Linked DNA regions of Homo sapiens: region 2 is linked to region 1. Evidence: fine-mapped expression QTL. A gene starts in region 1. The other region holds a variant in brackets. All regions are shown on one strand. Distances are from middle to middle.

Region 1 (2,903 bases):
CATTGTTCAAATATCTCATCATTCTCTTCTCTCCCTATTATGCTTAATAAAACTTTACTACTTTAAAAATTATAATGGCCACCCTATGTATCAGGTAACTACACACCTCTTGCAATATACATATAGGGATCCACACACGTCAATACTTTCATGTCACTAAACAGCTAAAGTGACTTTTCCACTCATTTCAGACTTCCACCTCATCCAACTCCCTCCTCCGCAAGGTATGAAACAATTTTTTAAAAAACATCTTTCCATAAGGCCTCCCTTTCTTAGTTCTGCTCCTGAAAGACAAAAAGGACCAATTTTAAAGTCTTCCCCTTTTCTAAGCAGTAGTCACTCCCCAGTTAATTTCAGGATCTAACAACCTTACTTTTCTCTATCAAGATTTTTGACCCACTTTACCTCTGCCTCCAAGCTCTTACTCAGCTTCCATGGAACCTTTCAGCTGACACAAAAGCTGGTGTCCTTCCATTCAATATGTTCTCGCCATCAGGTACTAAGTTCAACCTATCTACATCTTCATCCTGAAATGTGCATCAATCGCCGCGCCCCCCACCCCAGACACACATCTCGCACACACACACACTATTCCCATGTGTCACTCTACCTCTGACATACAAGTTCCTTACACCACTCTTAATGAATACACACGACTCTCAGAATGGTATCTTCCGACTACACTGATTCTAACCCAGTTTCTTCTGAAAAACCCAACCTTGTCCACAGTGCCTCCCTCTTTCCTCACTTCCCCATCTATTCCCCTTCACGCCTCCCCACACCGCCAACTAACTACAGATGACATTATTCCTCAATACTCCCAACCCGAGAATGAAGAACAAGCTCCAGTTTCCTGCGGTCTCCCTCTCCCCCTGTCTGCCCTCCGCGGTTCCCCCGCCCCAACACCCCAGGTGTGCAGACTTCCTCCCCGTCCTCTACTCATGCATCGCTCCAACCAATCCCACGCCACACCACGAGTCCCCTGCCACGGGGATCAGACTCCTCCACACCCACCTCCACTCGGGGTCGCCGCCGCCTCCCCGGACGTTTCTCTCCACCCCTCGCTAGCAAACCCGAGACCAAGGGCGCGCGCGCACATTCTCACGCTTCCCCAACCTCCCTCCTCGCACCGGGACGAGCCGGCTTCGCCAGAGCTCAGCCCGGGCGGTAGGGGCTAGGCACCCATACCCGTTCCGCCCCCTCCCGCAGATCCCCTTGCAGTCTCCGCCGACCTGCCCGGCGAGGAGAGGACGCAGCAACTCCCCCGCCACCCCGGACTTACCTCGGTGTCTGTTGCTCCATGCCCCAACCTGCGGCCCGCTCCCCCTACGTACCAGCCCGGCCTCGGCACTCACCGGAGGTACTGCGCGCTCTGCAGGCTCATCCTCCGCCGCCGCCGCCGCGTCTTCCCGCGAAGCCTCCGTGGGTCTCTCAGGCTCCTCGGAGCGGCCCCGCGGCACCGCGGGTGCTGGCGGCCGCCGCCATCTTCCTCTCCTCCGGCTCCTCCTCGCTCGGCAGGGGGGTGGGGGTGAATGAGGCGAGGGGGAGGGAGTGGGGAAAGCTGCTCTCGCTGCTGCTCTGGCCCGTGGGGCGCAGGGACACTCCGACCCGGGGGGGAGGGGGAGGGAGGAGGGGCGGGGGAAAGAGGAGAAGCAGAGGAAGTCGGCGACCGGGCGAGGGAGGGGGTCCCTCTCGCGAGATTTCAGCAGCGCCTGTCCCTCAGTGATTTCCGCCTCTCTGTAGCGCTCCCTTTTGGGATCAACGAGCTGTGTGGCGCCTGTGCGGCTTCTGAGAGACCGGCTGGTGGCGCTTGGCGGCTTCCTGCCAATCCACCCTTCTCCTCCCGCGCAAGGGGGCAATCCCAATCCCACCACCGGGAACACCCAGGCCAAAAGAACGGGAGTTACACTCAAAGTCTTCCCCCTTCTTATCACTCCTGCCGATTTCCCTCTTCCTTTTTGCACGCCTCCACTCTTCCCCACCGGAAACGCCGCCCCTTCCTCCTACAGTTCCTCCCAGCAGTCCCTCAACGCCTGTCTTCCCTCGCGCGTAGAGAGTGACTCGAAGGACCCCCTCTCCTCTTCGCTGCAGCCCCTCCCCATGCACGCTGGGAGACTCTTGGAGGGGATAAGGTGGGGCCCGGAGAGGAAGAGAAGACAATCGGATTGGATAGGCAGCTGCCATGGCAACTGGAGGCTGTGGTTATATTGTCATAGTAACCGATGTGTGCGGACAGGGTCACCCTCCCCTTGGCCAATGGATTCCCAGGAAACCACCCAGGGTTCCCCGTTGGCTTCCCTTCCATCTAAAGGCCTCCCCCAAGTTAGGAATCGATATAGTTCTCCCCGGTGGTGAAGTCCACTTCCTCCTCCCTTCCCACTTCCCACAGCAACTGGGGGGACACCCCGAGGCATTCACCATGGGCTTTTCCACCCGCCTGCGAGCGGGAACCACCTCCGTAGTTTCCTCTCAGAGCCGGGCGTGGAGAGGGCTGGGCCTGCGAAGAGGATGCATGGCCTGGAGGCTGGCGGGCGGCGGGCTGGAGTCGGGAGGGCGAGGCGACAGCGCCAAGCGGCGAGGAAGGGCAAGGGGTTTCCCCACAACTGCCTTGGGCTCTGGGAGGCGGGATCCCGCCTGGACGGGGTCCCTGAGGGAGGAGAGCGGCACACGACAGCCGCGATGCCTTCCCTGCCGACGGGGATAGCCGACTTCTGGCGAGTCGACCCCTCCCCCAAATCCACCCCACCCGCGTACTCCCTCCTGACCTAGCTGTCGCGAGCCTGCCGCGAGGAGGCCAGGGTGAGGGTGGGAACACATCCTAGAAGGCTAACACGTGGTTTTCTATCATTTAAGCCGGGGACAAGCCGGAAGGCTGACTAGCGCCATCACTCTGATAGGCACCC
Region 2 (2,845 bases), 100 kb before region 1:
CCTTGAGACTCAGATTTTCCTTGAAGAAAAGACTGAGATGGATTATTTCAGGCTCATCAAGGCATTGTCATCAGTTACCTGGGGGCATACATTTTATTAATGTGAAGCGCAAAGGACCATGCAAAAATGAGCCCCCCGGGCTCTCTGAAGGGAGGCTGGACACGAGTGTGTTGGCTTGTGGAAATATTCATGATAATTTGCATGTTTTGATTGGCACTTCAGATTGACAAGCTATTTGTTCAGCATTTTGCTAGCAAATCCAAAATCATGAGTTCATTGTCCGTGCAGGACCTGCCAGAAGCTTGCTCAGTTCCCAAGTTTATAGACCACACTCTTTACTATCCATGGTTCTTACCCCATGTACTTGATTGATACCTAAAGAGAGACTGAGGATAATTTGGCATAAATCTGTCCCCTCTTGCTCAAAGAACAGCTCAAGGCACATATTTAGGTAAAGGTTTCTGCAAAACAACTTCTTTTCTCTATTATCAAAAGGGAGAGACATGACTGGCTTTGACTTTGCAGGTTCATTTACTTTTTCCGGTTGGCCCTTCCCACCCCTCCCACTTCCAAATATATACTAGCAGTTTTGAAAACCAAAATTCCTGTAAATGTCAAAGACCTTTCTTTAGAAAAATCACTGACAAAAGTCCCCTTGCTTTAGTTTCTCAGGCACAAGAAGTCAAGTGTTCCCAGGGTCGCTCAGGGCTAATAATAGAGTCTGTAGCCGCCCTCGGCCCCTGGGGACATATGGCCCCATCCCAACCCTGCAGCAGGCTAGCAACTAACTTCACGTCTCACAGTCTGAGAAGATGGGGCTTTGCAGTTGGAATTGGCTGCCATTCGACCAACTTCTCGAGTAAGGTTTCTCAGCTGTAGCTCTGTTAATATGTTGGACCAGACAATCTTGTATTGTAGCAGAGGCGAGAGAGGGGTTGTGGTGC[G/A]TCCTGCGCATCGTGGGAACTTTGACGGCATCTCTAGCTTTTAGATGCTACTAGCACTGCCACCACCACTCCCCACCCAATGTGACAACCTAAAATCCCTCCAGACATTGCTAATAAGCCAATGACAGCCACTTATACAGATTAGAAAGTTGGGGGACAAGTGGCTCTAGAAAAAGGATTATGTCACAGCAGCATCAAAGTACAGTTCCATGGGAGGAATGTTTCCCCTGGAGTTGGGGTTAAAATGGCCCTGAGAGGACAGAAAATACTGGCTGAGTGGCCCTCTCTGCAAGTAAAGCTGAACTTTTCAGGGTCTAAGGCCCTCTTTGTCACATGGGACCTTCCAGTCATTTCCCTACTTATAATCCTTCTCTTCCTGATGTGGTATGACCCTGGCTTCTGAGAATCACATCATTATTTTTGAAGAGTGTCAAGGTTTTTCTCATCATTAGTTCATAAAAACTGATTGTAGAGAAATGTCTTAAGAGAAGGTGGCTGAGAACCAAATAGGAAATTTTAAACGATCTGAGTTCTTTCTTTCTGCACACAAGGTCAGGAGTGGGCTGGAGAAGCCAACGAATTCAGAAGGCAGTAGCTCATTGAATCTCAGAAATAGGACTGAAAGGAGTCCAGATTTCCACTTCCGGGGTTGATCCTGGCCCCCACCATTCAGCACCAGCCACTAATGCCACAGAAACATCAATCCTTCCACCTGTCTGAGTTTGGCAAGTTCACGTCATTGTTGGCAGGAGGCCTCAGTTCTTCGCTACATGAACTTCTCTCTAGGGCTGCCTAAGTCTTGTCATGACATGGCAGCTGGCGTCTCTGAGAGCAAGTGACCCAAGAGCAAGACAGTGTCAATGTCTTTTATAATCTAGCCTCAAATGTCACACCCCCTAATTTCCATAATATCCTATTTAAAAAATTTATTTCAGTCGGGCCATTTTTTAGATCTTGGTAATGCATCCAAACGATTATTTGATTCTGTGTGTAAATTGTGAAGCACAATAGTAAAATAGACACTCAAGAACCACAGCCCAACTCAAGACCTGGAAAAGTATGACACTGTTGCATTTACCATTCCCCCCCCACCTGAGGTGAAGGTGCCCCTGGCTTCTGTGCTAACCTCTGTCTTCTGGGTTCAAGCAATTCTCCTGCTTCAGCCTCCAAGTAGCTGAGATTACAGGTGCCTGCCACCATGCCCAGCTAATTTTTGTATTTTTAGTAGAGACAGGGTTTCTCCATGTTGGCCAGGCTGATCTCAAACTCCTGACCTCAAGTGATTCACCCGCCTTGGCCTCCCAAAGTGCTGGGATTACAGGCATGAGCCACTGCGCCTGGCCTGTGTTGCTACATTAGTCTTGTTACTCACATGGTCTGGGCCAGGTTCTGCTGGTGCTGGTACAGGAGGTTGCATCTTGATCCATCTTCCGGCTCTGTACCTGTCCAGTGTTTCAGCCTAGGTACAGTGGCAGGAGGTGGACTGGAAGACCACACACCTGTATTTTATTCCCAACCCTGTGTCTGCCTCTAGAAGGGGCCTTGAGCAAGTCACTCTTTTACTAAAGCAACTCATACTAAAACAACACAACAATTCTTCTTCTTTTTTTTAACCTGGTTTGAACACACTGTATACAATAATTCTTGTCCCTTCCTGACCTATTTCGTTGTTGGAAGAGTACAAATGATGTTGCATTTACGCATTCCATGGTGTTTTCTTAACACCATGTTTGTGTTTGACATAACTCAATAGCAAGACTAATTGCACTATATTTTAGATATTCCCAGGAGAGCTGAGAAAGGGAGAAAGGCTACCAGGCAACATTCTCAGAGTATACGTGTGAGCCTTTCCCTGGCACCTTGATTTGGAGTAGTCTCAAGTTTTATGTTGCGGTCTGTAC

Direction of the effects. Positions count from the first base shown, and alleles are read on the strand shown. Sizes are in standard deviations (SD) of each study's normalised expression.
In carriers of allele A in region 2, the expression in monocytes after LPS of the gene that starts at base 1,506 in region 1 tends to be lower than with G alone (large effect, 0.87 SD a copy in Fairfax 2014).

The links. PIP is the estimated chance that this variant, and not a neighbour inherited with it, causes the effect.
Region 2: its variant is the best candidate, but not a certain one, in a credible set for the expression of SMG7 in monocytes after LPS (Fairfax 2014, PIP 0.62).

The regions. Positions count from the first base shown.
Region 1 is chr1:183,471,102-183,474,004 of GRCh38, reverse strand. It overlaps SMG7 (SMG7 nonsense mediated mRNA decay factor), which reads right to left and starts at 1,506. Exons shown (of 23, transcript NM_001375584.1): 1 at 1,356-1,506. The coding sequence starts at 1,384. SMG7-AS1 (SMG7 antisense RNA 1) reads left to right here and starts at 2,023. Exons shown (of 5, transcript NR_040063.1): 1 at 2,023-2,903. RefSeq lists a silencer at 1,519-1,668 and an enhancer at 1,824-2,455.
Region 2 is chr1:183,574,630-183,577,474 of GRCh38, reverse strand. All of the region lies in intron 3 of NCF2 (neutrophil cytosolic factor 2), which reads left to right. Among named protein-coding and RNA genes, the nearest start is that of NCF2, 14 kb to the left of the region's middle. The variant G/A (reference allele first, on the strand shown) is at 945.